2 separate regions of the Homo sapiens genome follow, and region 2 is linked to region 1. A link means that fine-mapping ties the variant in region 1 to the plasma level of a protein whose gene starts in the linked region. Region 1 holds a variant in brackets. A gene starts in the other region. All regions are shown on their reverse strands.

Evidence for each region. PIP is the chance, under the fine-mapping model, that this variant and not a neighbour inherited with it causes the effect. Protein levels are from antibody-based Olink assays in UK Biobank. Linkage for the fine-mapping came from a reference panel and not from the study's own genotypes, which makes the PIPs less certain.
Region 2: CHRDL1 starts here. The variant in region 1 is fine-mapped to the plasma level of the CHRDL1 protein (UK Biobank, PIP 0.98).

The regions. Positions count from the first base shown.
Region 1 is chr22:39,473,400-39,484,385 of GRCh38, reverse strand. All of the region lies in intron 1 of MGAT3 (beta-1,4-mannosyl-glycoprotein 4-beta-N-acetylglucosaminyltransferase), which reads right to left. It overlaps MGAT3-AS1 (MGAT3 antisense RNA 1), which reads left to right and starts at 7,564. Exons shown (of 2, transcript NR_126469.1): 1 at 7,564-7,928; 2 at 8,447-8,579. RefSeq lists enhancers at 5,439-5,940, 9,578-10,507 and a silencer at 10,673-10,986. The variant T/G (reference allele first, on the strand shown) is at 6,077.
Region 2 is chrX:110,790,152-110,801,137 of GRCh38, reverse strand. It overlaps CHRDL1 (chordin like 1), which reads left to right and starts at 5,321. Exons shown (of 12, transcript NM_001143981.2): 1 at 5,321-5,394; 2 at 8,923-9,050. The coding sequence starts at 8,957.

The DNA.
Region 1 (10,986 bases):
ACAACAAACAAACAAACAAAAAAAAACAAGGCTCCTAATCATTCTGAACCTTAGTTTCTCCATCTGTGAAATGGGCACAGAGTTCCTGGCATGCAGCATGCTCAATAAGCTCTTGTTCCCTTCAATGCTCAAGGCTGGATGCCCGCAGTTTAATTTTCTACAAGCCACATGGTCGTAAGGCACAGAATCACAACACGATTGATCTAGAAATTTTAAGGACCATCTCCTCCAACTCTTTCATTTTATAGAGGAGGAAACCAGGACCTAGGGGCCTTCAGGGACCTGCCCAAAGTCACAACAGAGCTGGAGTGTGAACCGGGCAGCTGGGCTCCTGCACCAGGTGCCCCTCATGACCTCAGCTTGCGAGGAGTCCTGAGCAGGCTGGTAAGAAGCAGTGGAGCTGCTGATCCCGACAATCAGGGCAGCGTTTGCCCCATTCGAGCTCAGATATCCCTCCTCCAGTAAACGCCTGCCCCCCTGGAGCTGTCCACACGGAGTGGGCACAGCTGACTGCGGGCAGGTAGAACAATCTGGGGTAGGGGCCTGACCTCTGCTAAATGTCCCAGGGCAGAGCTGGGGCTGTTCGCCACTGGAGTTTGGAAGGAGGGGCTGCTCCTTGATAACATTTTGAAGTGGGTCTTCTGCACTTCATTCTCCATTTTGGATTCCAGCCCTTGTCTGGCAAAGTGAGACCAGTTGGGCTGGACCAGCTGGGTGAGCAAAAGGGGCTAGGAGTGCTGTGGCCAGGACCAGACACAAGGCAATACTGCAGCCGGGGTTAGCATGGCGGAAGCTTCCAGAGCAACCTACTCTTGGGGTTTCAGGACTTGGAAAGGCAGCCTGGATCCTTCTGGTGGGCTATTTTTCTTTTCTTTTTTTTTTTAATTTTTTAATTTTTTTGAGACGGAGTTTTGCTCTTGTTGCCCAGGCTGGAGTGCAATGGTGCGATCTCAGCTCACCACAACCTCTGCCTCAAGCAATTCTCCCGCCTTAGCCTCCTGAGTAGCTGGGACTACAGACATGCACCACTACACCGGCTAATTTTGTATCTTTAGTAGAGGTGGGGTTTCACCATGTTGGTCAGGCTCGTCTCGAACTCCTGACCTCAGGTGATCTGCCCGCCTTGGCCTCCCAGAGTGCTGGGATTACAGGTGTGGGCCACTGTGCCTAGCCTTAGTGGGCTATTTTTCTGTACTTGGGACCTGCCTCTGAGGGGGACACTCTAAGTTACACAACTGGTGTAAGCTATGTGGCAGGCATGGCCTGGGGCTGCCATTCAGACTCTAAATCCCCTGGCAGCATGAACAAAGGCTTTAGCAAAGCAAGGTAAGAGGAACTCAGAGAGGCAAGGAAACAGCCTGCTTGGCGTAAAGGGCCTCCGTGGACCTGCTGAGGTCAGATTGACCCAGCTGCCCCTTGGCTGGCTTTCAGGATCTAGTTACTCATAGCCAGCTGTGCCCTTCTGAGCACGGACTCACCAGTGCTTGGGAGCTCCCCTCTCAGTCACTGGAGCCTTCAGGACAGGGCCCCTTAATAAGGCCTCAGTCTGGGTTGCTGCTGAGAATCAAGGATCTGGGCATGTTTCCCTCATCACTCAGGCTGCTAGGAGGCTCAGAAGCACACAGTGGTCAGCCAGAGCATGTCAACAGCACCTCACAGACAGCATTTTCTTGGACTCCTTCACTTGCAGCTGCCCGCATAGTTTCAATCCTTTTCAGCTCAATTCCTTTTTGTCTTTTCATTTTTTTATTGAGACAGCATATAAATAAAATGGAATAAATAAGCACTGGCACTCAGGGTCTCATTTAAATCTCACAGGCACTCTGGTAGGTTATTTAAACTGCCCTGTTTTAACAGATGGAGAAAACGAGACTCAGAAAGATGGCAAGACTTTCCCCAAAGGACATCATTAAGGAGGTGGCTGAGTCAGGACTTGAACGTAAGTTCTGGTTCTCAAGCCAGTGCCTCTCTCCCTCATGACAGCTGAGACCACCAGATCCCTCTGTAGTGCAGGTGGCCCAGCTGTGGGCTAAAGCCATGGAACCAAACTGGGCCCCAGTTGGTGGCATTTCAGCTTCCATTACAAAGCTTCATCAAAGCTGGGCACAGTGGCTCATGCCTCTGGAATCTCTGCACTTTGGGAGGCCAAGGTGGGCAGATTGCTTGAGTCCGGGAGTTCAAGACCAGCTTGGGCAACATGGCTAAACCCCGTCTCTACAAAAAAAAAAAAAAAAAAAATTAGCAGTGCCTACTTTCTAGCAGTGCCAGGCATGCAGAACTACTATGTGCCTGTAGTTCTAGCTACTTGGGAAGCTGAGGTGGGAAGACTGCTTGAGCCCTGCAGGTCAAGGCTGCAGTGAGCTGAGAGATCGCAATTCTGCACTCCAGCCTGGGCAGGGGAGTGAGACTCTTATCTCAAAAGCAAAAATAACAAAGCATTGACAAACCATCAGGTGTAACAGTAAAACTATCACTGAGGCTGACATGCCAGACACTGTCCTAAGCTTGTTACACACGTGACTGTACTGAATCCTCCCAACACGAAGCAGGTACCCTTGTATAAGGAAACCGAGGCCAGGGAGATGATGTCGCTTGCACAGCATTGCACAATAGAAGGATCATACTGGATCCTATAGGGTCAATCACGGGGTTGTATCCAGTGGTAAAGCTGTCCTGAGCCCCTTCCAGCTGCCAAGTTCAACCCAAGTAGAGTGACAGAGCCCCTGAGGAGTCCACCTGTGACCAGTGAAGACAACCCAGTGGATGGTGCAGCCCTGGGGCATTTGATCCATACAACATGCCACAGGGTGCTCACCCAACCCACGTCACTCATTCACTCAGCAACGATTTTGCCAGAGCCCCGTGTGCCAGGCACCTCGGTGGGTACTGGGAACATGGGGAGACAGGACGGACCAAAATCCCTGCCCTCAGGGAACCTGCTCAGCACCCAACAGGGTAGGGAGCCTGCGTAAACTACAAACACACTAGTCAGCTCAGAAAACTGCGCGCCCAAAGAGGCTGTGCTCTGGAGAAAGACAAAGCGGGTAACGGGCAGGAGCGAGTGCGTCATTATGTCCAGTGATGAATGGAGTGGGCAGGGCAGGCTCACCGAGGAGGCGACGTGAGCAGACTCCACGCAGGAGAGGGCGCCAGGGAAGAATGTTCCAGGCAGAAGGCACAACCAGTGCCCTGGCAGGAGTGTATGTGCGCCAGTGAAGAACAGCAAGGCGGGTGGGACGGAGCAAGTGAGGGGACATGGGGGGCAGGGAACAAACCCAGATCACAGGGCCTGGAGGCATGGTTCGAAGTGTGGCTTTCACTGGAGGATTCAGAGAAGGGAGGCCATGGCCTGACCTTGGTGTGAATGGCTCACTTTGGCTGCTCTGCTGAGAATGAATGGGCACTTCAAGGGCAGGGCAGGGGAAGCCAGGAGGCCACACTGAACTGCCCAGGTGAGTCAGGGTGGCTTCCACCAGGTTGTAGGGTGTAGAGTGTGCTCAGATTCTGCTGGATTTGCTGAAGAGCTGGATGTGAGCAAGGCAGCACACTGGGTGGCCCCAGGCACTGGAAGAATGGACCAGCCCTTGACTGGGGTGGAGGAGGCTGGCCCTATCTGGCAGACCTGGGGCTTGCAGCCAGCATCTGTCTCTGCAGGGCCTAGCCCTAACCACTACTTCTCCTCCTGCAGACACCAACAGTGAGGCTGGGCGTGAAGGACATGGCCAAGGTCAAACACTGGCTAGCAGCAGGTCCTGGGCTAACCTTTGTCTCTAGATCCAAACCTCAGGTCCTCTCTGCAGCATGCTGTCTAGAAGCTTCACCTGAGGGATGGGCGGGGTGGGATATGCTTTGTCTGTGGTCCCCCTGTGGCCTCAAAGCACTGTGGGGGACATCGTCCAGCCCACTGTCCCACTCCCACCTACTTCCCTGGATGTACGTGGCTTGAGGTCCTCCAGCAGCTCAGGAAGCCAGGAGGGTCACTGTGGTTAGGACCTACCTGGGGAATAAGGTTAACTGAGCGAGGGCTTAGGGCCTTCCCTGGGCTGGGCGCCCTCTGTGACCCAGGCAGGCAGCTCTCTGAGGACAAAACCCCTCTCCAGCTCCTTCCCACCACCAAGGCTAATCTCTGTTAGCACAAATGCCATACTCTGGCTCTTACTCAGTTCGTTAAAATTCACCTAGTATTTCTCAGATGCCTGCTCTGTGCCAAGATAGCCTCCCTGGAGCCAAAGCACCTGCCTCTGCCCCAAGCCAGAGCCCATCCCGAACTCTCCCAACCTCCCCCAGCTCCTCATCATCATCAATGTTCCTATAGTCACTATGAACAGAGCAGGTCACCTGACCTCTCTCAGCCTCAACTCCTCCATGTATAAAATGGGTATCATTATCTCTGCCCTGCTTATTTCAAGTAAGAATCAGAGAGAACTATGCACGGCCCCAGCCCCAGTCAACACTAGGCTCATTTTCCCCTAGATGTCTGTCTTCCCAGCTGGCATATAAGCTCCCTAGAGCAGGGAATGTACACAGCAGGTGCTCAATGAGATCACCCCGCACTGCCCTGGGCCTCCACAATGCCCTCACCATCACTTCCATGTGCTCGGACTCCCCAGTTCAAATCCCAGCTCTGCCACTCCTATCTGTGTGGCCTTGTGCAGGTTAAGCACTTTTCTGTACCTCTGTTTTCCCATCGATGAGATGCCTAGCACACAGTAAGCACTCAATGATAAGTGCTAGCTCTTCTATTATTATTCCCCAGCCTGGCAGAGAAGAGAAAGAGTGAGCCTTTGGGTGGGGACACACCAGAAGCAGAGGCTTGGAGGTGAGTCCCTGGCAGGGCCTAAGCCTAGGTGGGTGCTGTCCTATCTCAGGGCAACAGGGAGCAAAACCTAAACCTGCTGTGGGGAGGGGCCAGGGGCTGGGAAGCCACGCCTCCTGAGACTCCAAGAAAAGGGGGGCTTGAGGCTCCACCCCCACCCCGCTGCCAGACACCCCGTAAGTTGTGCCCAGCCCCAGGGGCCTGTGACTTTTTAAATTTTTTTAGACAGGGTTTTGTCTTTCTTTGTTACCCAGGCAGGCTGGAGTACAGTGGGGTGGTCAAGGTTCACTGCAGCCACAAACTCCTGGGTTCAAGTGATCCTCCCACCTCAGCCTCCTAAGTAGCTGGGACTACAGGTGTGTGCCACCACTCGGCTGATTTTTTAAACATTTTTTTGTAGAGAGGAGGTCTCCCTACATTGCCAAGCTGGTCTCGACCTCCTGGGCTCAAGTGATACCTCGGCCCCCCAGTGTTGGGATTGCAAGCGTGGGCCACCGCCTCTGGCCGGTCCTGGGTCTGTTGGGATAGGTGGTAGAGCATGGGCCAGGTGCTTCCTGGCAGCCAGGTGATCCTGGAAGAGGGAGGCTGAGGCTGACCCAGGATGGCAGCAGGCAGGCCTCAGGCAGTGGCCATGGCCTGGAGGGTCTGAGCTGGACAGATTTCCTTCTTTCCCTCCCTCTTCCCACTTCTTGTGCCATTTTTCTCTAGCTCTGCTTGGAAGCCTGACGGGCTGTGAGGGAGGGAAGCTGATGAGCCCAAACTCCATGACCCAGCCATGACCTCATAGTCAGGACTCAGGTGGAGCCCAGCCAGGGGCTTCTGGCCAGGGAGAAGGGAGGTGCTCTCTGGAGGCCACTGGCTGTGATGGTGGGAGCTGGCCAGGCAGGTAGCAGCCTCCCAGGTGCAGACTCACACTGACAGCTGTCGCTTGGTGAAGGGCGGCTCCTGTGGAGCTCTCCGTGGTCCTGAGCTTGCCCGTGCTGGCCAGAGTCCTAGCTCAGTCCCCAGGGTGCCCTTGGCTGGCCTCACCCTGGCCCCTGCCACCCACCTCCGTGGTTCAGACGGCTCATGTCTTAACAGCCGGTTCCCCTGTCCACCACCCTCTGGCCCCTTCTCCGCCTGCCCCTCAACACCTGATGTCTGGCGTCTTCAGCTGGGGGACAGCCACTGGGCACTCCTCCAACTGGGAGAAGGGGCCAGCTGTCACATGTCCAGCAGTAAAGCAGGCCCAACACCCAGTGGGCACTCAGGGCATCCCTG[T/G]AATGTCCATGAGGGGCATTTTGGAGGATGCCAGAAACAACCTCAGTCTCTACTTCTGGGCAGGAAGTAGCCCATCCACTGCCCCCAGCCCTGGTACACCTTGGGGTGGACCCGCACTACCTCTCCAGGAGTTAGTTCAACTGTACGAAAGGGCTTCGCGCTGAAGCCCGTCTCCCTGTGCTCACCTTCCACCCGGCCTGGTCCTGCCCCATGTGACCTAAGGGCTCTGCCACCTCCAAAAAGAAGGCAGGAGGCACATCTTTGCAGCAATCCCTGCCATGTACAGCAGCTCCTGGGGCACAAGGTAGGCCAGTGGCCACAATGGCCAGATCCGAACACTGCTTGTGGCCTTGGCAAGTCACTCTGCCTCCCCGTGCCTCAGTTTCCCCCTCCACGATACGGAGGTATAACCGTTTCTGTCTCACAGGGTTGTTGTGAGAGTTGAGTGAGTTAATCCCCGCAAAAAGCTAGGGACCATGCCTAAGCACACAACAGATGCTCAGGACACGCCGGCTCCACTGTTACTGGAAGTCTGGAGGATTTGGTTTGAATCCCAGTGCCATGACTTACTTGCTGTGTGCCCTTTGGCAAGTTACTTAGCTTCTCTGGTCCTCAGTCTTCTCCGATCTAAAAGAAAGATGTCACCCTCTGTTTTGCAGTCCTGTGGGAGACCTGGCTGAGCCACGGTGTCAAAGCATTCTGCATGGAGCCTGGCCATTGGCAGAGGTTCTATAAATGCATGGTTTTTTTTTTTTTTCTTTCCTTCCATTTGGGTTTCCCGCTGGACGACCAAATACAGATGACCCCCTGAATATGCCAGGCCTTGCTCCTGACCGGCTTTATTTCCTTTAAGAAAGGTAACAAAGACACCTTTGTTAAGGTACAAAAGGAGGTGGGCCAATTGCGGGGCTGCTTCACCCTGACTGGCACCCTCAGCCTGTAGGGCCTTTCTCAGTAACTCACCAGGCATTCAGGACCTAGGCCAGAATCTGCGGAATCCGGCCCAGCCGAGGCCTGCAGACTCCTCTCCTGGGTCCAGAGGGCCTGCAAGTAAGAATTTGGTCCAAGGCTTCACCCCAGGCCAGTGCCTCTGCATGTCCACTCCCACGGGCCGCCCATTCCAATCCCTTTGGGCTGCTAGAAGTTCTTCCTTCTGTTGACCTTCATCAGTTTCCCTGGAGCTTCTGCTACTGGTTCCTTCCCTGGGGTATGGCAGAGGGAGTCGGCATCTCAGGAGTCAGAAGACAGTGAGCACCTCCCCGGACTCTGAAACTAAATGCAGCTTGAGGTTTCAGGATCCCACATGGGGAGACAGGTAGAGGCGGTGGCTGCAGAACATGGCCGATCCTGGAGTCCCGGCGAGACTGAAGAAACAACTGCTGCTCTGCTGTCCTCCCCTCTCATCATCTGACTCACTCCTTTGACTGACAACCATCCACAGGGACGCCTACACAAAGTGGTCACTCTGCAGTCGACGTATCATCCCAGCTACTGGTGGTCATCGGGGACGCAGATATGTGTGTCTCCATTTTGCAGATGAGGACATGGAGGCCTCAAGAGGTTAAGTGACTTGCTCAGCCACACACAGCTGATGGGAATGAAACAGACGGAAACGGAGACTCCCCAAGCTGACAGGCGGACTACAGATCTGGGGGTTCTGCTCCAGGCTCAACACAAGTGGCCTGGGCGAGGGAGGGCCTGGTAGACCATGACACCCAGCATCGAGGAATTCTGCTTCCCCAGCAGGCTCAGAAGGAAGAAGTCTGCTTCAGGGGCCAGGCCTGGTCAAAGACTCCATCTTCCCTGGATGGCCAGAGTCAAATCCTTGCAAATCCCGTTCACCATGGAGCAGGTGAGACAGCTTCTGCTGTGCCCACCCATGGATGAAGAAACTAGGCCAACAGAGGAGAGACAGAGCTACAAGGGGAGCAGTTCTTAGATTAGGCAGGCAGGGTTCAGGAAAGACAGGGTGCCCAGGCCACCAGAATACCCACGAGAGTCTGGGCCTCATGGAGTCAGCCCCACTCTCTGCTGGCTCAGCTCCAGGGTGGAGGCCTTGCCAAAGGCTCAGCCCAAGACCCATCCCAAGAGCCCTTTCCATGGCAACCCCACCCCTCCCCCACCTCCAGTCCCTGTGCACCACTCTCTCCCCTCCAAACCCATCCCCATCAGCTGATCCCAGCTCCCTGCAGGCTGCCTGAGGACTTTCCCACGGAGTGGCCGGCAAGTGCCTGGGAAAGTTGGTTCCCAAAGCTGGGATCTACCCCTGCTAGGACTCCACCCCTCCTGCACTGGTCACTGGTCCATTCAGGACATCAGCTCCTCATCCCCAGAGGCTCATTCCATAATGTTTTTGTTTTTGTTTTTTAGAGACGAGACCTATGTTACCCAGGCTGTATGTGAATTCCTGGACTCAAGCAATCCTCCCATCTCAGCCTCGTGAGTAGTTGGGACAAGTCTCACACCACCATACCCAGCTTAATTTAATTTGAATTTTAATAGCTGCATGCTCTAGTGGTTCCTACGTTAGACTGTGCAGTTTAGACTGAACGGAGAGGGCAGGAGGCAGGGAGTCAACCGGGTCCATCGTGCCAGCACCGCTGGAGAGATGGGGCTGCACTGAGGGAGGACCCTCATGGGGACAGTCACAGAGCTGGAGCAAGGGAGCATCCCAGGGCGCCAAGCCTGAGAGACGGCCCGTGATGAAGGGGAGGGCCAGGGGCGGGGCAGTGGTGAGCTGATGCCAAGGTCTTGGCTGAGAGAGGCTCATAGAGCATTGGTTAACTACAGGAGGGAGGGATGCAGCTCTGGGGGGCTGCCTGACACCAGGGTGCAGGGGCATTAGGCAGGTGATTGGCAGAAGGAGACCTCGGGAGGGGAGGTGGGCTAAAGGTGGGCCTCAGGGCCCGATACACAGATGTACAGACACATCCCATGGACTGGTCCCATGGGCACTGAGGACAGCTCTTTCCCAGCCAGGTCCCTGGAACTCCCCTCCAGGTGCCCCAGGACCTGAGAGAGAGGTGGAGTGAAGGGGGAGAGAAAACAAAGCCCAGGGACTCGCCCCCAAAAAACACAATCAAGAAGATGCTCCCAGCTTTTCAATTTCAGACACTGAGCTCCTCGCAAGATTTTGTTGGAAGGAAAGCTTCTACAGTTAAAAAAAAAAAAAAAAAAAAAAGCCTGGCAAGCCCTGCTGTGAATTCATCCCTCACTCCACACCAGCAGGGAGATGGAGGCCCTGAGGAGGGGGTGATTGGTGAAGGCCGCACCACAAGCAGAACCCAGGCCTCTCTGACTCCAGGAAGGCAGGGGCGCTGGGCTGGGGCTTTTCCATCTCGGATCCTCAGTCCCCAGTCCAGGCAGAGAGGGACCTTATCAGGGAGCAGAGGGCGGATGTCCCAGCCGGGGCTAGTGGTGCATATGCACATTTCAGGAGGGCCCGAGGGCTCTGACTGCCTCTTACACACAAAGCCTGGAATGGAGAGATGTAAACTTGGCCTGGGGGAACAGGCCAGGCCAGAAGTGAGCAGTGGCTCCTGCCCGAAGCACCCAGAGCAAATATTCAGTGAATGTTTGGGATTAGCCAGAGGAATGAGTACTGCTGGTGGCATTTCAGGCACAGGGCTCTTTATCTCTCAGGGAGAGGAAAAGGGTCCCCTCTGCAGGGCCACACATGACCACAGACCTGCTGTGTGCAGAGCCAGGAGGCAGTGGGAGCCCGTGAGGGCTGGGCCAGTGTGCAGGGAAGGTGCTTGGGGCTGTGAGAGGGTTGGGGGTGATGTGAAGACTGTAGCACTACTGGCCTCGCTTCATTCCACCCCCACAGGCACACAGGGCCTCAAACTCGCAGCTGGCAAGTGACAGCAGCAGAGTCCACACCCACCTGCGGCCTTGGGGCTTCTCAGAGTTTCAGGGGCAAAGTCCAGGCTGCTGCCTTCAGCCTTGCCCAAGGCAAGGGTCCCTCTCACCCCCACTGCCATCAGGACCCCATGGGCCTGCCATTTTCAGGTCACAGGGCTCTCCAGCTCTGGTAGATGATCGGATTCGCTGCCCAGGAAAGCTGCATCTGCCCATCCTGCCAACCTCCTAAGCCCCTCACCAGCCTGAAACCATGTGAGCACCCCGGTGGCACACTGCAAGGCCAGGCTGAAATTATGTTTCCCAGAGCCCAGAGTTCCCTGCAAGGCCAAGGGTACCCAGGGCAGCCCTTCCCACCACTACCCAACTCCAACAGGAACGGGTCACCCTGGACAGTGCGCCGTGTCTGGGTCTCCTGCAGCTTAAAGGAGGCTCAAGGTCCAAAAAGTCAGGAAAACTCCAAGGTGAGGCCCAGACTCCAGGAGGCTCCGGAGGCCCTGGATCCTGACCCACACTGCAGAACCTTGCCCTGATCTACCCTGGAGCTGGCACTCCACATCCATCTGCCCCCTGCCCACACACCTCCATCCAGGCTGCCCTCCTCATCCATCCCCCCTCCTCCCCTTAACTTCCATCCCCCCACCCCCATTATTTTCCCCTAGCCCCGATCACCCGGAACTTGGAGACAAGCAAGCGAGGGGTCCCATGCCACCTGCACCACCTCCTTGGGGAGTTTGTTTGCTGCTGTCTGCCTGATCCTGGCCTCCAGCTAGCCTGGCCTGGCCACAGGCCCAGGGATCCCCAAGCCCCTGTGTCCACAGCTTCCCCTTGCCAGCCTGTAATCATGTAGGGGGTGCTATAGTCTGAAAAATGTGTCCCCCAACGTTCACATGTAGGAAATTTAATCCCCAGTGCAGTGGTGTTGAGGTGTGGACTTTAAGAGGTGATTAGGCCGTGAGGGCTCCACCCTCATGGAGGAATTTATGCTGCTATTGTAGGAGTGGGTTAGTTATTGTTCCTGATAACAGCATGGGCTCAAAGTGGGTTAG
Region 2 (10,986 bases), not on the chromosome of region 1:
TGACTTTTGCTAAGATTTCATTAGCCAAAGCAAATCAAATGGCAATACTTAATTTCAAAAAGGGAAGAGGAGTAAAATCCTACCATGAGCTCAAAAGGAGGAAAGCTGGAAATATTAGATGAACCATACCAACTCTTTTTTTTTCTTTTTTTTATTTTTTTATTTTTATTATTATACTTTAAGTTCTAGGGTACATGTGCACAACATGCAGGTTTGTTACATATGTATACATGTGCCATGTTGGTGTGCTGCACCCATTAACTCATCATTTACATTAGGTATATATCCTAATGCTATTCCTCCCCCCTCCCCACACCCCACAACAGGCCCCCGTGTGTGATGTTCCCCTTCCTGTGTCCAAATGTTCTCATTGTTCAATTCCCACCTATGAGTGAGAACATACGTTGTTTGGTTTTTTGTCCTTGCTATAGTTTGCTGAGAATGATGGTTTCCAGCTTCATCCATGTCCCTACAAAGGACATGAGCTCATCATTTTTTATGGCTGCATAGTATTCCATGGTGTAAATGTGCCACATTTTCTCAACCCAGTCTATCATTGATGGACATTACTCTTTTTTCTAGCAGTTTTTAGAAATGGCTAGCAGGAAGAAAATACAACAGAGAAAAATTTCAGTAACAAACAAGAACATACACAAATAACAAAAGGGCTCATTAGAATATAGCTGAATAATCCTAAGGGGTCTTTACAGAGAATTGTCAACTTCTATATATTGAATCAAGTATCTGATTAATACAAACTCTAAGTTGGTGGCATCTTTTCTAAAAAGAGGTAAACCTATAGTACAATATACTCATCAATCTTTATGTATTCTGCCATTTTTGAAAGTTAATTTAATAACCTGAGTTTTCTAAGTCCCAGTGGGACAAGAAGCACTAAAAGGCAAAAAGTTTGTGCTATCAGAAAATTATTTTGTATATAATCATTTCATAATACCTCCACTTACATATTTATTTTTTAAATAAGTATGAGTTCTGCAACACATGGCATAGAAGATCAGCACACAACAACTACTTGCATTCATATATACTAGCAATGAGTGCATGGAAACTGAAATTAAAAATACAATAACATTTGCAATTGCTCCAAAGAAAAAGAAATATGTAGATACGAGTCTAACAAAATATGTATAGAAGTCATATGCTGAAAACTACAAAACACTGGTGAATGAAATCAAAGAAGACCTAAATAAATGGAGAGATACTGTGTTCATGGATTGGAATGCTCAACAAATTAAATTTGTCAATTGTCCCCAAATTGATCAATAGGTTTAATGCAATTTCTAGCTAAATTCCAGTAAGATATTTTGTAGACATAGACAAGTTTATTCTAAAGTTTATGTGGAAAGGTACAAGACCTAGAGTAGCTAAAACAACCCTAAAAAAGAGGAATAAAGTGGGAGGACCCACTCTACTTGAAATTCAGGCCTACCATATGTCTACAGTAATCGAGACTGCGTGGTACTGGTGGAGGCATAGACACATAGATCAATGGGATCAAATAGAGAAGCCAGAAATAGATTCACACAATATGACCAACCAATGTTTGATCAAGGTGTAAAAGCAATTCAATGAAAGAAAGATAGCTTTTTCAACAAATGATACTGGAGCAATTGGACAAAAATATATAGGCAAAATATGAACATCAACCTAAACCTTATACCTTTTATAAAAATTAACTCAAAATAGATCATAATTAAATGTAAAACTTTATAACACTTTTAAAACAAAAATATAGAAGAAAATATTCAGGATCTAGAGCTAGGTAAAGGGTTCTTAAACTTAATGCCAAAACATGACCTATATGACAGAAATTTGATACATTGGACATAAAACATTAAAAAATTTTGTTTTGTGGAAGTTCAAGGGAAGAGGATGAAAAGAAAAGCTACAGACTGGGATAAAATATTTGTGATAAGATATACAGGTGTCAAATAAACAATGAAAAGATGGTAGATATCATTAGGTTTTAGGGAAATGCAAGTTAAAACCACAATGAGATATCACTATATACCTACCAGAATGGCTAAAATAAAAAATAATGACAACAAAAAATGCTGGCAAGAATGCAGATAAACTGGATCTCTCACACATTTCTGGTGGGAATATAAAATAGTACAGTTGCTCTAAAAACAGTATGACAGTCCTTACAAAACTAAACATGCATTTACCATACAACCCAGGAACTACATTGTTGGGTATTTATCCCAGAGAAATGAACACTTACGCTTATTCAAATACCTGTAGACAAATGTTCATAGCAGTTGTAACCGAAATCTAGACTCAACCCTCCAATAGATGAATGGTTTAAACAAATTGTGATATATCCCTACCATGGAATACCACTCAGCAATGAAAAGGAACAAACTATTGATACCAGGAACAACTTGAATGGGTCTCCAGAGAATTATATCAGGGTTGGGGGAGAAGAGAGAAGAGACTATCTCAAAAGGTTGCATACCGTATGATTCCACGTAACATTCTTAAATGACAAAATTATAGAGATGTAGGACAATTTAGTTTAGTAGTTGACAGGGAGTAGGGAGAGGAGGAAGGGAAAAGATGGGTGTGACTATTAAAGTGTAATACAGGGTATCCTTGTGGTAATGGCGCTGTTTTATATTTTTACTGTGGTGGTGGTCACATGAATATACACATGCGATAAAATTGCATAGAATTATATACACAGGCAAATGAGTGCATATAAAACTGGTGAAATCAGAGTAAGATGAATGGATTGTACCAATGTCAGTGTCCTGTTGTGACATTGTACTATATTTATGAATGATGTTATCATTGGGGAAAACTAGGTGAAGGGTATTTGAGATCTTTCTGAATTATTTCTTACAACTGCATGTAAATCTACCATTATCTTAAAATAAAACTTTTTAAAAAATGAGTATGAGATTATGCTCTCATCCCTATTTAATAAACAGAGAAAATAAAGCATGAAGGTAATCATCACTTAAGTTTCTATAAGACCTGGTAGGATGTCTAGATTAGGACTCACCCAAATGGGAGTTCTCAATTCAGAAATCAAGATTGGAACTAATACAAAATACAAGGATGACTAACATTTACACTAATGAAAAACCTGTCAGAGAATTCCAGCAGCCCCATATACAGTTGCCTGCAACTGCATAAGAGATCTTAAGCAAGTTCAATAGAATCAACTCAATAGAACCAATTGAGAATAATTGCTTGCTTTAAGCCACTAGGTTTTCGGATGGTTTGTTATGCAGTAATTAGGATTCTACACCAAGCAAGGGAGTGAGTGGTTGTAGCCAAATAGATGAACTTTTAAATCCCAGTGAGTCTATTTATTTTAAATGCTAGAATTTATGTTTGTCTCAGACTATCCCTTGAAACTCATTTTCCAGAATACTCTGTAAGCATGTTGGAAGTAATGATGGGAGTTGGGTAATGCACGCACAAGAGAAATTGAACAACCAGTCCTTGCCCTTGAAGAACTCACAATCTAGTAAGACAAAACATCACTGCATTAAACGGCATGAGAACAGTTATAAGGCAACAAATCAGCAAGTTCAAACCGATATACAACAGCACAAATTGAATGCATGTGGCAGTGTATGGCTACCCAGGCAGCAGGACGGAGCTAGACATTTTGGGCCCTGAAGGCAACATTACAGAAAGGGCCCCCTTTCCTTTGTTAACAGTGAAATAAACATCACCAGCAATGCAGGGGCTAGCTGGATACTATTAACACTTCTGAAAAAGCAAAAGGAGGTAACGTTCAGGGACAATTATTCTTGTTTTAATTTTTCTTTGTTTTCTGTTCCTGATAAGTGGTTTGTTTGTTTGTTTGTTTGTTTTTTTGACAAGCCACAGTTTCTCTGAACATCAATTTCCTCATCTACAGACTGGAGATAACAACCAGAGAGTAGTGGGTTGAAAGTCAGGGAATCTGGATTGGAATCTCAAATTTGTCATTTACTAGCTGTGTGACCTTAGATACATCATCCTCTTCCCCCAATTCAGTTTCCTCTTCTGTGAAATGATGAAGTTAAGCTGAATGGTTCAGAAGTTCCCCACCAACTCTAACACTTGAGACCTCAGGTAGTTCGGTTGGTTTTGAGGGTTTAAAAAGTAATGTTGATGTATGTGAAAACACTCCGTAAGCCATAAAGTACTATACAGATGTTAGGAATATAGATATTTATCTAGTTCATCTAGAAAAAAGCTCTGCGGTTCTTCTCCAAATTTAGGGGCTTAAAATTTTGTCTGTCGAGGCAGCACTTTCCTGGACCCTAGAAGTTTCTGACAATTCTTTGCAACTATCACTTGTTGAATAAACACAAATTTGGAGTAGGCAGGCCCACCAAGGCATCAGCAGTGCTACTGTGATTTCCAGGTTGAGCTCTTGGCCCAACTTAGAAGCTTAGGGACTCATTTAAAAAAAAAATGGTGGGTATAGTGTGTGGCACCAAGTTTTCTTCAAGACACTTAACAGTTAGAACAGGCCCTTTCCATGAGGCTTGGGAGCCCAGTTTGTAAGAGAAAGTGGATTTCTAATCCCTGACCCTACACACACCCATCTCCACCCCGCCTTTAAGGACACCAAACCAAAGCTTTGTCACTCTGTTAGCCACAGTGTGGATATGGGAAACGCCGTGAAATGATAAGCAGCATGCTAGGGCGTGATTTGCGAGGAGGGTTCATTCTGTGTCCAGGGCACCAGCTCAGTACCAGACCAGGTGCACACCTCGGAAAGGCCTTGGTGCCGGAGGAGAGCGGGTGTGGGCTTCCAGGCAGGGGAGTCAGAGGGTAGTCGGTATCTTCAGGGCGTGCGCGAGTGGTGGGGAGCTCCTAGGTGCATCCAGTGCAGAGGGGGAGGAGGGACCGGAGGAGCTGTGCGGTCCCTTTAAGACCCCAACGCTCGCCTAGCCAAAGGAGTGGGGGCTGCAGTGGGGGCGCTGTGTGATGGGAAAGTAGCCGGCTGAGTCTCACACTTTCTCCCGATTTTTAAACTTTCGGGCCGGGGGAGCAGAAATAAAGCCATTGTGCCGGGGTGGAGAAAGTGTGCGTGCTTGCAGCGGCTGCGTGCTTGCGGACTTCCCGCCAGCGCCGAGCGGCCGGCTTCTCGGGCCAAGTGGGGAGCGAGCGGGAGGGCGGGCAGGTGGCCCCGGGCCGCCGCGCCCGCGCCTTGGCTCTGCCCCCGGGAGCCGAGCAAGCCGCTGCTCCCTCGTGGTGTGAGGGCGGTGATGTTTTTCCTCCCACCCACTTTTGAGTTCCCCCTCCCCCCTCGCGCGCACTCTAGCTCTCGCCACAACCTGCCAGCCCCAGACCTCGGACGAGAGCGCCCCGGGGAGCTCGGAGCGCGTGCACGCGTGGCAGACGGAGAAGGCCAGTGCCCAGGTTAGTGAGCAGTGCCCGGCGCCCGCTTCCCTCACCTCCTTTTCCAGCCTTTGCACAGGTGGGTTGCCTTCTCTTGGCCGGAGCCGTCCCTGGAAGTTTCCCCAGGGTGCCCCAAATTCCCCTGCCACCCCAACCTGTTCTGTGCTCCAGCAGTTAGCAACCTGGATGGAGGTGGGGCCCAAGGCTTCTGACCAAAGCAAGTTGGGGGTCTCTGAATTCGAACTCACAGCTCGTCCCTCCCCACTCGGCCTGCATTTCTTTATGCTCTGGCGCTTTGAGAGGTCACTTAGGTACTCCACCCTGAGCTACCCAAGGGACTCTGCAGTCCCCTTAATCACTGCCTGTATTCCTGAGCCTGTTTTCTCATTTTGCTGATGAATACATGGTAAAGTTAATGTAGCAGGGTAGATGGGCGAAAGGCTCCCTATCCTATCCTCTGGCCATCTGCCTCATTTTTTGTCCCTGACTACGGGGGTCAGAATTTGAGACACTAGGCTCTGGAAGCAACGTGGTATATTGCCAGAACATAGGGCCCGGAAAGCCTGCTTTCCAGTCCCTCCCAGCCCTGCCACTAAAGTTATTTGAGTTCTCTGGGTCCCCCCAGTGCCCATTTTGAAGGTGGAGTTGTGTGGAATGAAATGAAATGATAGAAAGGTGTTTTGCAAGCCAAATGCGAGGCATTGTTTGTCAGTCATAAGCAGCAATGAAAGCATTTCCTCCAACAAGAGATACCCTGGGTTAAAACTGCCATTTTCAGTGGCAACACACCACCAGTTAACTGAACTTTTCTTGCTGGGTGGTAGAGTGGGGAGAGGATTTCAGCTGATGGACAAGGGCCTGGGACTCCAGTGTCTTTCTTATTGTTTGTCGGAAAGAAAATTGCTACCCTAGGGGCTGTCCCACAGATGATAGTCAATGTGAGATTACAAGGTCAGTCAAGCCTCTCAGGAGGATTAAAGAGACACTGTGGGGCGTGAAGAACTGGCTGACATGTGTTCATCCCTTAGCCTTCCTGTGGGGATGTCTCTTTGCTTCTGTTCTACCCAGGAGACCTGTTCTGAAAGTGGGCTCCTGACACTTGATGGCCCAGATTGCCTTGCAGTCACAGCTGGGCAAGGAGCAGTTGGTCCCTTTGCTTAACGCAGATGAACAATGTGAATGCTTGTTTCATGGAAGCACCTTAATAAATACCTTTCTTTTGGTACTTGATACATTTCTCTTTCTCTTGTAAAACACAGGAACTCTCCCATCCCACCTCCACTACCTGTGTTAGTTGCAGGGTTTTGTTTTTTTGTTGTTGTTGTTGCTTTCTTGTTGGGTCCTGGATCCCCTGAAGCATGTCAATGGCTACATGTCTAAGTAACCTGTAAAAGAGCCAGTGCAAGTTCAATGGCACAACAGCCTGTGTGAAGCAGACAGAGAGTTAATGCAGAAATAACTCCAGTTAACTGGGTCAAAGTATAATTTGAAAAATTAAGGACAGTTTGGCTCTTTGCAAGAATAAGAGTCGGCTAAGTTCGCTGAGCAATGCTTGCTAGTGTTTACTGCTGCAGTCCCAACACATGTTTTGAACCACCCCCTTCCCTAAAAGAAAAAGCTGAAGAGATAAAGAGAAATTGAACAGTGAGGAGATCTGGGGAGGGAACTCTTCTTGGTTCATATTTCTGCACAGAATACAAAGGCAGGACTTCAGGATCTTGTAAATCAAAAGTGAATATTTATAAAGCGATTCATTTTCTGATGTTCTCCATCACAGCCTGGGAGGCCACACAGATGACAGGAACGCCAAAGGAGATTAATTGCTCTCTAGTTACCAACTTTTTTATTTGCTCATAATATTAGTTGGGACCTAAGAAAGGCAAAAAAATCTATGAGCTGTTTTCTTGCCAACTTGAGTTATGAAGCAATGCTACAGTTCACCGAATCGCCCAACCATTATACAAGAAAAGCAGCCCTGTTGATTCTCGCATGGGGAGACCCTAAAACCATGGTTTCAGAAACACCCGTTGAAATCCATATATGAATGTGATAAATTGGATTTCAGTGGTTAAAAATCTTTCTCTTTTGGAGGCTTGGGGAATAAACTTATTAGAATAGGCTCAGGAAGAACCTCACTGAGGTGGGTAGCTGTGTTAAATTGTTAATGAAAATGATTTGTTTCGAATAAACGTGGTAGCCCTCAAGGGACAGTAACATTCTGAGTGATTGTAAGTGGGCCACAAACTCACAGAGGGGACCAAGACATCAGAACTCAGGTCTTTAGATGGGTAGGAACATGTCCTGAGAGAATTTGGTTCTTTAAGGAGCAGGGAGGAGGTAAAGAAGGAAGGCAGACGGTGCTGCAAATCTTGTTTGATAGCACAGATTACTCTATCATCAGTTCTTCCTTGGTTATGCATTCATAATTGAAACAGTGGATTTTGAATGACCCAGGCAACTTCATAGCATTTAAGTAGGAGCTGTAGCATCTACTTCAGAGCCCAAAGATATTCAACTCTCCAAAATGATCGTTTTGCATTCCTTCAAGTTCTTTATGTGCAATATTTAGGTTGGACTTTCTGGAAAGATCAATGAGTTCATTTCCCATTCAGATTGAATCTGGTGTTTTTAGAACATTTCAATATTTTCAGATCACCCATTGGAGGAATTTTGCAAACTCTAACATCTGTGGAAATGATCCGTGACTAGATGTGAGCTACAGCAAACTTTCTGTGTTCCAAGGTTCAAAAGGTTTAAGATTTCTACCCCTTATACTGGGAATGCCAATCTCATGTTTTGAAGAACTGTAGTTGTTTTAATGGTCTTTTGCATGGTGGTGCAAGGTGAACAAATTATCTATTTAATTTGCCCAATTTCCCCTAAAAATGGCCCATTTAAAATTTCCATTTTACAATGGACTTCTTGGGGGAGGAATATGTTGGAACCATTTTAAGCAGTAAAACTTTTCAGGTGTTTAATTGCATCCATTTGCTAATTACATCTATCTTTTGCAATATTAGTTGCCAAACCAAAGATCCTTGTAGATCTCATAGAGGACACAGGAGAAACTGATCAATTTGTACTTCATTCCAAAAGGATTAAAAGTAGTCTTGAAGCTAAGATTAGTTAACTTTCATTTCAGAAATTGCTTGGTCTCATGCTTGTTACTTTTACCTTGTTTGCTAAAATAACCGTTTTTGCAAGCTAAAGTTTCCCTTTTCTCCCAAAAAAATCTCTTGAGAAATCAACTTTAATTCCCTTAGAAAGGAAGATTTCAAAATTTATTTTCATTTTCCTATAACTTGCCTGTAAGGACTTAGCCTCAGCTTTGGATAGGAATGCACCCTCATTCACTTGAATTTTCACCCACAAGCCTTGCAAGACAGGAGAGGCAAGTCCTTTATCTTGTGCAGGCAGACAATACTTACACTTATGTAAATTCTAGGACATTTTTTTTTTATTCTAGCAGGTTAGAAGCCTGAGCATCAGTGACCTCTATCATTTCCAGAAGATCTGTGTTAAGTCTTTTTTCTGCTTTCTTCCCAACAGCTTGAAGGTTCTGTCACCTTTTGCAGTGGTCCAAATGAGAAAAAAGTGGAAAATGGGAGGCATGAAATACATCTTTTCGTTGTTGTTCTTTCTTTTGCTAGAAGGAGGCAAAACAGAGCAAGTAAAACGTAAGTGTCTTGCATTTGGAAAATAATACACTTTTTATAATTTCTTTGAAAATGTGGCTATAATCTGTAGCAATTATGATTTAGCCCAAATGTGGCCGTGCCATTATTCTAAGAGAAGAAAGTGAATGTTACTGGTTTATGCATGAATTGATAAAAGAATGAGAGCTTTGAATCAGGCCAACTAAATTTGGGGCTGTTTTTCTGATTATCATGTAGTCTTTGTCTCATAGAACATATGACACATTAGCTTATTTTCTCTTCCCTGTTCTAAACTATACAAATCTCATTACATTTTACGTAACTCTAGAAATATCTGACAGATGAGCTGGAATTTTCCCAAATTTCAGACTCTTCAGCAAAGGCTTTCAGTTTATGAAAAATAATGACACAGAAAAGAAAAAAAAAGAAAAAGAAAAGCAGGCTCTGCCTATTCCCTTATGCCGAAAAACGAGGAAGGACGAAACCTTCCTATGAACTGGGCTCAGATGAAAAATGTTTTGAGGAAATTGAGATTCCAGGGACCGTTAGCAAATTGGATGCCATTTATTGAAAAGAACATCCCCGCAAAGCCAGGGAATATTTCTAGAAAGTCAGCGATCCGTGTAATGGGCTAACACATTGGAGAAAGCAGAGAGTGGCAGGAAGTGGGGGCGGGGGGGATAATTAACCCTCCTTGCTGCCACGTTTAGGAGATTTATGAGTAACGGTCGACATATCCGTTCTTGCTGCCTTTGCACAATGTGGGTCTTACCTTCTTTGGGCCACTTGCAGCCATCTCTGAGGTAGATGCTTGCTCTAAATTTGAAGGAAAAGCCTAAGCTCTAGTTCCCCTTTTTGACAGCATCAAAAAAAGCACAAAATGGAATTGGTCCAAGAGGGGCATTCTCTGCTTCACTGAACTTATTCATGAGAAGGAGCTGTGAAAATATTCTTGGTAGGAACTGAAGCAGCATCTGAAGCCCTTCACTTAAACCTTTATCTCTTTTATCACATAAGTTAAATAGATCAGGCAGAAGGCTTGCTGACAAGGAGAACAGTGCCAAGCCTATTCCATCCTTAAGTGTGTTTCTGTCCCACTACAATTTTCATAGTAAGTGTAGTCTTCTTCCTGGGAGAAACAGTGTTTAATAGTGTTTTTGATTATGCTTTTGAGCATGAGCGGTGTATGGTGATATCTAGTATGATTGGGACACAAAAGGAAGTTTAGTGGGGCATGATCTCAGCAAGGAAGCTTGGATCAGCCTCTACTCTTGTATCCCTCAAATTGCTTCCTTCTTCTTCCACTTGAATATAGTTCATCTCAGAATCCTCCTCTTCCAGAAGCCTTCCTTGATTTAAGTGGATGTGACAGAAGCATCCATGCATTCTCAGCTCAGCTCACAATTAGCTGGGCTTAGGGATGAAATATTACTCAATAAGTACAATGTACATTATTTGGGTGATGGTTACACTTAAAGTCCACACTTTATGCGATATATCCATGTAACAAAACTGCACCTGTACCCCTTAAATTTATACAAAAAAATCTTCCTGTCTTAGAGAGAAACTTCCCTTATAGCCTGTTAATGATGACCTCATGGGGAAAGCTTGTAACTCTCAGAAGACCATCTCTTATGGAAAGCCTTTCATATTTATGAAGAATTGAATATTGTCCATGAAACTTAGACAAAGAAAGATGTGACTTAAAAAAATTACAAACCCAAATCTACTACTTTCTAATATTTCCTTGTGCTGATGAATTTGTCCCAAGCCCTTTTGATATTCAATTGGTGCCAAAGTGATTATGTAACAGATGGCCTAGGGCACCAGATCTGGTCCAGTGTTTCAGGCTTATTGTCAGATGATGACGCTAAGGTCATGGTCCTTCCCTTAGTGAGCCACTGAGCATCATTATGTGTGTCCATGCCCAAGCTAACTGTTCTGAAGACATGCAAAA